2 separate regions of the Homo sapiens genome follow, and region 2 is linked to region 1. Evidence: fine-mapped expression QTL. A gene starts in region 1. The other region holds a variant in brackets. All regions are shown on one strand. Distances are between the middles of the regions.

Evidence for each region. PIP is the estimated chance that this variant, and not a neighbour inherited with it, causes the effect.
Region 2: its variant is the best candidate, but not a certain one, in a credible set for the expression of ARSK in lung (GTEx, PIP 0.83).

The regions. Positions count from the first base shown.
Region 1 is chr5:95,552,504-95,557,889 of GRCh38, forward strand. ARSK (arylsulfatase family member K) reads left to right here and starts at 2,598. Exons shown (of 8, transcript NM_198150.3): 1 at 2,598-2,901. The coding sequence starts at 2,776. SKIC3 (SKI3 subunit of superkiller complex) reads right to left here and starts at 2,474. Exons shown (of 43, transcript NM_014639.4): 1 at 2,433-2,474.
Region 2 is chr5:95,636,745-95,642,130 of GRCh38, forward strand. No RefSeq gene overlaps it. Among named protein-coding and RNA genes, the nearest start is that of RFESD, 7.3 kb to the right of the region's middle. The variant C/T (reference allele first, on the strand shown) is at 3,169.

The sequences.
Region 1 (5,386 bases):
GCTTACCAGTGTTAACAAAAAAATGAGTGACTGAGGGAAGTGTCTCAATCAGTAGATGTTTATTGAGCCACACTTTGAGCACACGCCTGGGGAAAAACAAGCCACAGAAGCATCTGTGACCCACACTTTCCAAAGAGGGCTTTCGGAACTCAGTATTCTAGAGGAGAGCATGCAGGAGTGAAAAATGGCGGGAGGGAAGTAGGCAGTGAGGCAAATGGTTACATTCTCTTGAGTACCTTTTCTGATAGCATAGAATTACTGATTAGCAAAAATGTTGTACGTTCACAAAAGAGTAATCAAAACAATGAGGAAACCTGAAATTATGAGAACTAGCTGAAGAAACTGGGGACTAGGAAAAATAAATAAATGGTGGCGAGGGAGTTGGGGGAAGGACTGTTGAAAGGGAGAGATTATCCATGTAAAAGTGAAGAAAAATGCACTAATGAATGGTTAAAAATAGAGGAAGATTAACTTCAACTTAAAATAGGAACTTTTAATGAGACCTATATAAATGTGGAATGAGGTACTCAATGGAAGTGTTTCCCATCACTGGAGATGAAAAAGCACAGGCTGGACAATCCACTCAGCAGGAATGTTTTAGGATAAACTGAATGTCAGATGGGAAGTAGGACTAGAAGCCTCTTAGATTCTTCCAGCACAACGTCTCTAAGGCTCTAAAATATCTGTCTTGCTCCAAATCACTGCAGCACCTGCTCCTATTGACACTGCCAAGGGGAGAAAGAAGAAAAAGATGTATTCTTGTAAGCCTGTCATCAGAGTACATGTCCTGTGGAAACAAGGCTGTAGAGAGTAAGCACAGTTTATGGAATCAGACACAAAATTAAATATAACTTTTATGAATTTAAATGTCAGTCAATATTGTCACTATGGTAGAAAATACGTTCTACATTCCAAATTAACTCAAAACAAATTTGTTTTTATGAGAGAGCCCACTTGTATTACCTTCCGTGCTGTATTATTATTTCATGTATGCTTGGTTTTGCTTCCCTGAAATCTAAACTCATGTAAACTGAGACTATTGTTTAGGGGTTTTTTTGTTTTTGTTTTTTTTTTGAGATGGAGTTTTGCTCTTGTTGCCCAGGCGGAGTGCAAAGGTGCGATCTCAGCTCACTGCAACCTCCACCTCCTGGGTTCAAGTGATTCTCCTGCCTCAGCCTCCCTAGTAGCTGGGATTACAGGCGCCCGCCACCACGCCCAGTATTTTGCGTATTTTTCGTAGAGACGGGGTTTCACCATGCTGGCCAGGCTGGTCTCGAACCCCTAACCTTCGGTGATCCGCCCGTCTCGGCTTCCCAAAGTGCTGGGATTACAGGCGTGAGCCACCGCGCCCAACACTGTTTACGTTTTTGCATGCTCCCGCAGATCTTTATCATGCTGCTTGAGTAACAATTCTGCTACACTAACAGATAAACTAACTGCAGACAGAGCATTTAGTGAGTTACGGCACAGACTCTTCAATTTTCAGTCGTGCTCTGACTGGCTCCCTGTGTAAACTCAGGCCAGTCATTTAACCTCTCTAAGCCTGTTTTCCTATCTGCAATATGGTGAAAGTGAGGATTATAGAAAATATTCCATATAAAAGTACGTGGCACGCAGCAGATGCTCAGTAAATGCTTAGTATAACGCTCAGCACCTAAGTGCCATGTGAGTATTAAATAAACAAATCTGTTCCTTACTACAATTATCTTAGGCAAAAAAAAACCTGCCAGATATTAGTATTCAGTTGACTTAAGTAAGTAGTATAACTCCTCTTTTAACTGTCAGAATATTAAAACTACTAGTGTGATGTGCAAATTATATACCCGAAACTAGATACAGAAATTGGAATTTGGCTTTGGGACAGAAATCTGCTTCTTCCAGAACTCTCCAAAGGAATTCAACAGTCAAAAGAGACCGGTTTTTATTCTGCAGCAAAACAATGATATTCTGAACCTACGTCAACTAACTGAACATGTCACACAGCCCATTTCCCCCTCCAGTTTCGCTTATCTCCTTTGCTCTCTGAAGGCAAGGAACAGCTATGCTTTCCCCTGCCTACAGCCTGAAACTTCTTACTAGGCCCCGCTCCTCGCCCCATGGGAGCACAGTAAATCCTGACTGCACGGGGTAAGAGAAGCAATAAGATGAGACAGGCTAGAGATTTCCCTGGGAAGGTATTCGGGGGGGTCTAAGGCATTCACGGCGCACCTGAGGCGGTCCACCCAGAGGCCCCACAAGGCACCGCCCTATTCAACTTAAGTGACAGCCGCGCCGCCACCTCATCGCCGCCCAGTTCACGCTCTCGCCGAACACTCAGCCACGCTTGCGCGGCCCAAAATGAACAGCCCCGGCCCCGATCCTTTCTTTCTCTAAGTACCATTTCAATCGCCTTTAGGATCCCTTGTGCAAAACCGACAGAAATCCAAACCCACCTGGAGCAGATGCTCCTCTTCTACAAACGCCGAGGCTGCAATGAGAGCGCATGCGCCTTTCCCAGGACTCATTCACGTGACTGGAAGTGGCTGGGTTCTGATTTGCTCGGTATTTGATTAAAAGGTCTTAACGTGGGTAAAAGCGGGAATTTCTCTGTTGCGCATGTGCGCGCTCTCCGCCTGATAGGAGTTGTAGTTCTGCGGGTGAAGCTCGGCGTTACTATCAAGCAACCAAACTGCAAGCTTTGGGAGTTGTTCGCTGTCCCTGCCCTGCTCTGCTAGGGAGAGAACGCCAGAGGGAGGCGGCTGGCCCGGCGGCAGGCTCTCAGAACCGCTACCGGCGATGCTACTGCTGTGGGTGTCGGTGGTCGCAGCCTTGGCGCTGGCGGTACTGGCCCCCGGAGCAGGGGAGCAGAGGCGGAGAGCAGCCAAAGCGCCCAATGTGGTGCTGGTCGTGAGCGACTCCTTCGTAAGTACCGCGAGGCAGGGGAGGGGCGCCCCGCTGGGGATCGGCGACCTCACCGCCGCCGCCTGTGCTGCAGGCTTTGGGGAGCAGAACCTGAGACATTTTCAAACACCTTTTACCCCGATGCAAAGAAAGAAATACATTTTATGTGAGGCCCCGTGTACTCACACGTACACCACATACCTATGCAAACATGTAAAACAATAGTGAAACACTGAAAACATCTTTGCAGATCTTTTTTTTTTAATACTGACCTCGATTCGCTAAATTATTTTACCACGACTAATGAACTTTCAGTCCATACCCCCGTTTGGTTTAATTGTGTGGTAAAATAACATTCTGCATCTCCATAAAAGCGTGTTAGCTTTCCAAAAGTCATTTTCCAGTTCACCTCAAGTTTGCAGGAATTCATGTTTGGGTGAGAAGTGAAGAAAGTTTATTTTTATTACCCAGGTCTGTGATAATCCTGTTAGTGCTGATTCAAATGGAATCGTTGGTATAACTTGATTCACTCCCCCGTATTCCAGAGAAATTGTGTGTATGTGTGTGTGTTGGTAATGTGGCTGAATCCCAAACTTAAACAGTTTTTGAAACTTTCCCAAGCCAAAGGTGCTACTGTCAACCTTACGCGATGCTTTTAGGATGATCCATGTTTTAAAAAGTGCTGCTTAGACAATTGTTTGGTTATTAATTGTAATATTAGTTTATTATCACTCGGTGTTACTGTGGTCACACAGATGTTGGTGTTAAGCATATCTGGCACTAAAGAGTGTTTGTAATCATATGTTGTATTTCCTTTCTCGTAGATTCCTGATGATTAAAATTACATAGTCTGGATGTGCCCATGGGATTTTTTGAAAATATTACTTAAAGTTATCTTTGTGATTTAAACTTAGAGAATGGGCAGTACTGGAAATTGACTAGATGGCATTTTATTACAGAGTGCTCTTGTAATCAAAGGCAAATGAAGGAAGCAGGATTGTGCAGAGGAGAAGCTGAATTTTGTTGCCATCTTATGAATGACAGTTCTCAAACTAGTATGGTGCTTCAGAGCTGCTTTCCAATAGGAGTGAGGAGAACAGACCTTTCCACCTGCATGTTGGATGGCCACTGGTTGTGGGCTGCTCCTAGAATGGGGCATGGTGTTGGGCAAAGCAGCTGTCTTCAGCAGAGGCAATTGTTCATTCCTAAAAGGGAATCCGAATGTGGATCACAACATCCCAGAAACTTCCAAAGATGACTGAGATATATAGGTTTGTTATTTTTTTTAGTGTAGTATGAATGCATAGATTTTTCTATATTTGTGCTTAAATTTTTTGCATTCACGGCCGGGCGCGGTGGCTCACGCCTGTAATCCCAGCACTTTGGGAGGCCGAGGTGGGCGGATCACGAGGTCAAGAGATCAAGACCATCCTGGCTAACACAGTGAAACCCCGTCTCTACTAAAAATACAAAAAAATTAGCCGGGCGTGGTTTCGGGCGCCTGTAGTCCCAGCTACTCGGGAGGCTGAAGCAGGAGAATGGCGTGAACCTGGGAGGCGGAGCTTGCAGTGACCTGATATCGCACCACTGCACTCCAGCCTGGGCGACGGAGCGAGAGTCCGTCTCGAAAAAAAAATAAAAATAAAAATAAAAAAATTTTTAAAAAATAAAAAATAAAAAAAATTTTTGCATTCACATACTTGTTAATATTCAAACTGTCCTATCTTTGGCCAGTGGAAGCCCCTTCAGGTGGTTCTGAGTCCTTTTGACCCATCCCCATTAGTATTTGACAGCTTGCTTTAACAGAGTTCCATGTCCACAATACATATTTCCTGTCCCATCTTGTATTTAGAGACCACAGTCTGAGTGTTAGGGTGTTCATTGCATCTAGACCTTTCCAGTGGACAAATCTAGAAAGTATATAATATTTTAGAATGAGAAAAATAAATTGTGAGATCATACTGATACTTTCCATTCAAATTTAAGATTACAAGTTTATTCTTTGATTTTTATACTTATATCTTTTTTGTTTTATGCCAAATATTTTGGTCTAAATGCATTAATGCAATTACTTATTTGCTTTATCCAAACATATAATATGTATATATCAATGTGTTTGAAAATAAGACTGTAATATTACTAGAAATAATGCTAGTCCTGAGTGCAGCTTACAGTTTCTTTGAAGTTTTTGTTTTAGGTATATTCAACTATATAGTAAAAATGTTGGTCTTTAAACTTAAAATAATTCCTCTCTCTATGATTATACCAGTTTGGTATGCTGTTAGATTCTTGACACTGTGATTTATCATTTCTAAAACTCTGCAGGCTAAGATAGAGCAGTTAAGCTGGATAATAATTGTAGGAAGAAAATAGCAAATTGGTTTTACTTTCAGGATAACAACGCAAGAGCTTTGTAGATCAACTCCCAAGAAAACAAGCAAACCAAATGAAAACTCTTTTTTAAACTATACATAAAAACTATTAAATATTTGAAACACTTAAAGTG
Region 2 (5,386 bases), 84 kb after region 1:
AGACAGCCTACCTCCCTAGTGATGAAGGGGCTTCCAACAACACATACAGCCAGATTAATGAAGCCAGTAGAAAGGAAGCGCCTTGTTTCACATAATTTAAGCAAAATATCTATAATTGACTGCACTGAATTGGGTGCATGGTCAGATCTGCGTTATGTGTACACTCTTTGTATATGAAAGGTTGGGGGCAGGGGTGTGTATGTGGCCCACCTAGACCATGTAGAAGAAGTGTTGCCCAAGAGGAATTCCCTAAAAGAAACTTCTACCAGAAAAAGAGAAAGTAGATGACATCCAAATCAACTATACATCCCCAAATCTCCACTGAAGGAAATCAAATGATACACATTTATAAATGCTATGGATTCAGATTAAAAGTATAAATAATAATTTTATTAATCTTATTCTGTGTACTTTGCATCAATTATGCCTGCAAATTTTTCTTTACATCTCTTCCTGAGAGTGTTCTAACTGATCTATTATTTCATGTAGTTCTTTAAGCACAGAAGTATACAGATGATTAAAACTTTAGGGCCGGGAGTGGTGGCTCACGCCTGTAATCCCAGCACTTTGGGAGGCTGAGGCGGGTGGATCACCTGAGGTCAGGAGTTTGAGACCAGCCTGACCAACATGGAGAAACCCATTCTCTACTAAAAATATAAAAATTAGCCGGGTGTGGTAGTGTGCACCTGTACTCCCAGCTACTTGGAAGGCTGAGGCAGGAGAATTGCTTGAACCTGGAGGCGGAGTTTGCAGTGAGCCAAGATCATGCCATTGCACTCCAGCCTGGGTGACAGAGCGAGACTCCATCTCAAAAACAAAAACAAAAGCAAAAACAAACAAACAAACAAACAAACCTTTAGCCTGGATCGTCATCCTTGAGGTTATACTAAGAGAAACATTTTGGGTAATGCCTACTAGACATTCAGGAATCATTGTGCAAGCTTTGACCTTCATCTGTCTGGTCAATGAAGTCACACCACTATGTCAAGAGCATTAGACCTGCTCTTTCTAAGTTATTGAGATGGGCTTTTAGTGTGCATTTTGAATTTTCAAGAAGATTTTTATTTTTCACTTAGCTTTTATCATTATTGTATATTTTTAAATATAGCTACTAAGAACTTGCCCTAGCCACAGAGTGTACTCTAAGAAGCAGAAGATGCTTAATGTATTAATGTTATTATAAGGGGAACAAAGAGTTTCATAGTCAAGTGTTTGGAACACTAGGTTAAATACGCTTCTTTTTCTTTAACTTCTTATTATACAGTTACAGAAAAGCTAACAGTAACACAAAAGAACACCCACACATTAACCACTAAAGTTCAGCATTTTGCCATCTTCATTTATATATATGTATATAGTTGTTGTTGCTGGTGAATAACTTGAAAATCAGTTGCAGACTCATGATAACATTACACTTCGCCTCCAAATACTTGAGCATGCATCTCCTAAGACATTCTTACATAACCATAGAAGCATTATAACACTTAAGAAAACTAACAATAATTTTCCATAAGGGGATAATACCATGTAATGCCCAGTCCATGTTCAAATTTTCCCTTTTTTTCTCAATACTACTTGTATAGATAACTTTTTCTTTTGAACTAAAATCTAATTAGAGTTCACACATTGCATTTGATTGTTATGTCTGTTTAGTGCCTTTTATTTTAAAACAGTCTTCCTGAACTTTTTAAAAAGAGTACTGTGTTTTTTATGAGACCAAGCCAGTTGTCTTGTATTAATAGAATATTCCACATTCTGGATTTTTCTGAATGTCTTCCCTTGACATCTTCTCATTTATTCTTCCCTTCTCAACCAGGTTTCTTTACAGCAGAAACTCTCAGAGCCTTTAAAGTTCAATGGGCAAAACTACTCTGCAAATGGACACCTTCTAGCAGCCTCTGCTATCTTCACAATAACCTTCCACACTCAATGAAGCACACACATGCCAGAAACACCAGCCCTAGCAGAGGATCAGATGGAAATACGCATGCCTTACCCCTTGAGTTTCATGTGAAAGGACTTCAATTTGACTCCCACTCCTGGATGCTCTCCTCTGTTGGGGCTACAGGGGCCCCATTGAAAATGAAACAACAACAACTAAAAAACAAAAACCAAAACCATCACATCTGGGCTCTAAACTAATGTCTAGGGGGAAATTGAGGCTCAGAGATTAAATTCTCTTGCAAGGTAAAGCCCAAAGTTATCAAAATCTGAAGGGTCACAGTTCGAAAATCAAAATTTTCTGCACTTCTACGAAAAAAATCAGAGCTTTTCCTGTTTCTGATTCTGCATAGCCTCAGCTGGGGGTGCTCCTAAAGCCTTAAGCAGCTGCAGCTACAGTCTATCTCTGAAGCTGTATTTGTTCATTTTCCATTTTCTGAGGAGCCTCACTCTTTTAAAGTGTTAAAAGTCTCAGCAGAAGCCAGAACATTATTGTAGCACTAGCCTCTCACCTACCCACCAAAGTTAGGAAACAAACCATTCTCTGTCCCTGGAGCAATTGCCAAATAAAGATGTACTTCTAGAACCCAAAAACTCTAGCATAGGCTTAGAATCTGAGAGGAGAGACTCTGTGTCTCAACTTCCTCAGGGTGGCTGTCAGTCAGTCAGTGAAGGCAATCCAAACCTATATTCTGTGCAGGTAAACTATTTGGGAGAAATCTTTTCATAAGAGGTTAATTTGGGCATTGTGCTGAACAAATCTGGGGGACGGGTGGGCAGAAGGAGAGCCATTCATAGACACGGGCAATAGTCATTCTGCCTTCCAACAAGTTTAGAAATTTACAAAGGTGGAGGCCCCAGTCTCCAAGTGTCGTTCACGTCTTACCAATTAAAATTCTCTTCATCGCCGTTTCCATTCTGAGCCCTTGTACTTAATTGAGCAAGATCTCTATCTAGTGACATGGAGCTCTCTTGGGAGCATGCTTTCAATCCTGTGCCTCAGTGGCTGTTTTCAGTGGCAGGCTAAACAATCTGCCTTGAGCTACACTTTCTCCAGAGCTCTCTTGACTCCATGGATGATGTGGAGTGACTTTGAGCATGTGGACGTACTACAGGAATCCAAGGTTTGTCCTTCCACAGTTCCCTCTCTGGCCTAGAAGGCAGAATGAAATCTGAAGCAGTGCTGCCTCCCCAACCCCACAGAGACAATTTCCAGTTAGGCACACG[C/T]GGAGCTCAGCCGCCTTACATTTTAAATGCAGCTGGGTATAGATTTAGGTGACGAAGTGGGGAAGGGTTCTCTTTAAGAAAAAGATACAAAACAATACATTTAAAAATATATGTAAAAGCGAATATTTAATTAGAAAGAATGATCACAAAAAATACAAATATTTTAAAATGGCCATAACAGCAAACATTAATTGCCAGGCATACCTCTATAATACTTTTTGTCTACAATCTTGTCTACTTACTCTCTAGTCATCCCTTCACACAATAATTTTATGATAATATTTTATATAAATGGAACAGATAGATAATTCAATCTTTCCTACAGTATTAATCTTTTTTTAATTGATAGGAAGCATAAAACAAACTTAGTTTGTAGACTCGGTACAGGTTTGTGTACTTTAGACATAGGAGTTCTGATAAATTCTATTTCACGTGATTCCCATCAAAAAAGACGTGGTGGATTTATAGTTTACATGATGTCATTATTAAGCACATTTCATGTGTACTGTCAATGAGAACAGAATCCCATACTTACAACATTACCGAACATCTGATGATAGAATTTTCTACAGCCTAATTTCTGGCTCCATCCATTTCAAATCTGGCTTCTGCTCTAGGACTCACATACTTCCATGTCGGGCACTGTCCCACCTTCACATTTTGAGAGAACCCTCGCCCTCACCCTCATTTGGGTATACAGGGAGAGTCACCACAGTGGGCAACTGGAGAATTCTTGGAAGCTATAAACCATACAACTATATCCCACTAAAACCAAACTAAATGTATTTCCAACTCAGACGCCCCTTAGCCAGGTCCCCAAAATGTCTGAGTGACAGAAGAAAAACAATGGCCTTGATCCACAGAAGTTAAATTACTTTGCTTTTACACATTTTACAAAAACATTATTATCATTATTCCTCCCTGTCTTCTTTCTCCTTTCTGAACAATTCAGTCCTAAAGCCAGTAGGTGGGACAGAGCGGGGAAGACACACATGCTGGCTAGGGGGATGAGAAGGAGGAGTGACCAAGGTGGCTCACAGAGGAGTGTCAGAGCCCTAGTGGGATAGATGGCAACATGGTGTAGTGACATAGCACGGCCAGCTCAAGCCCAGTGGGAAGGGAATCAAGGGGCAGCCTACAGAGGCTCAAAGTCCAGTCTCTGTGATGTGCCTTCATTACCTGAATCTAATCAGGAGGAAACATCAGATGAACTCAAACTGAGGGATATTCTACAAAATGAATGGCCTGTAATCTTCAAAAATGCAAATATCATAAATGTTAAAGAAAGACTAAGGAGATATCTCAGACTGAAGAAAGCTAGAGACATGAAAACTAAACATACAATCTTGATTCTGAACTGAATTTGAGGATTAGATGGTAGTGTGTCAGTGTTAACTTCCTGATTTGGATGGTTGTATTGTGGTTATGTAGAAGAATGTCCAGATTTGGAGAAAATACATACTAAAGCATTAGGGACTGACGGGGCATCAGATTGGTACTATACTCTCAAATGGGCGTTTGGGAATAGAGTTTCCCTGTATTTTTCTGTATTTTTGTGTTTGTTACCAAATTATATATAATTATATATGTGAGGGGTAGGGGTGAGAGGGCGAGAGCATATGACCATGTGAACACATTACTAGTGTCCCTCAGGACCTCAGGATCTTGGAAGGCCCCATGCAAATATGGGAACCTGAAGCTTCAGTTTCATCAATATCACTACCTCTAACTGCAGCAAACCTGACTCTACCCACTACTGTCTGAAAGGCCAAAGTCCTTAAAGACATAATTTAGACCTTGTCTTAGTTATACCTGCTTTCTTAGGTCTTTGTGGCCTCCCTATCTCTGCTAACACTCAGTGTAGCAGAATGAATATGTTCTGAATGTTGTTGAAGGTCAAGGAGCAGCAGCTTGCACCCGAGGCCCACGTCACCTAAAGCTCTCTGGGGTTTGCCTTTGCTGGGCCCACATAGCTCTGTTGTGTGTATTTGCTAAGCCTGGCTTGGTACAAATGGCCAGTGTTTTGCTTCAGGCTCAATGTAGGTTCGGTGGTATTTGCTGATCAGACTCTCTTCTCCACACCCCCACTTACGTCAGCTGTGTATCATTTGCTTAATGCTCAGGACTTGGAGTCCCACCAGGAAGATAAAAATCAGCAGTGAACAAGAAGTGTTTCAGCTAGTCAAATCTCCAACCTTCACTCACTTCTCCTGGTATG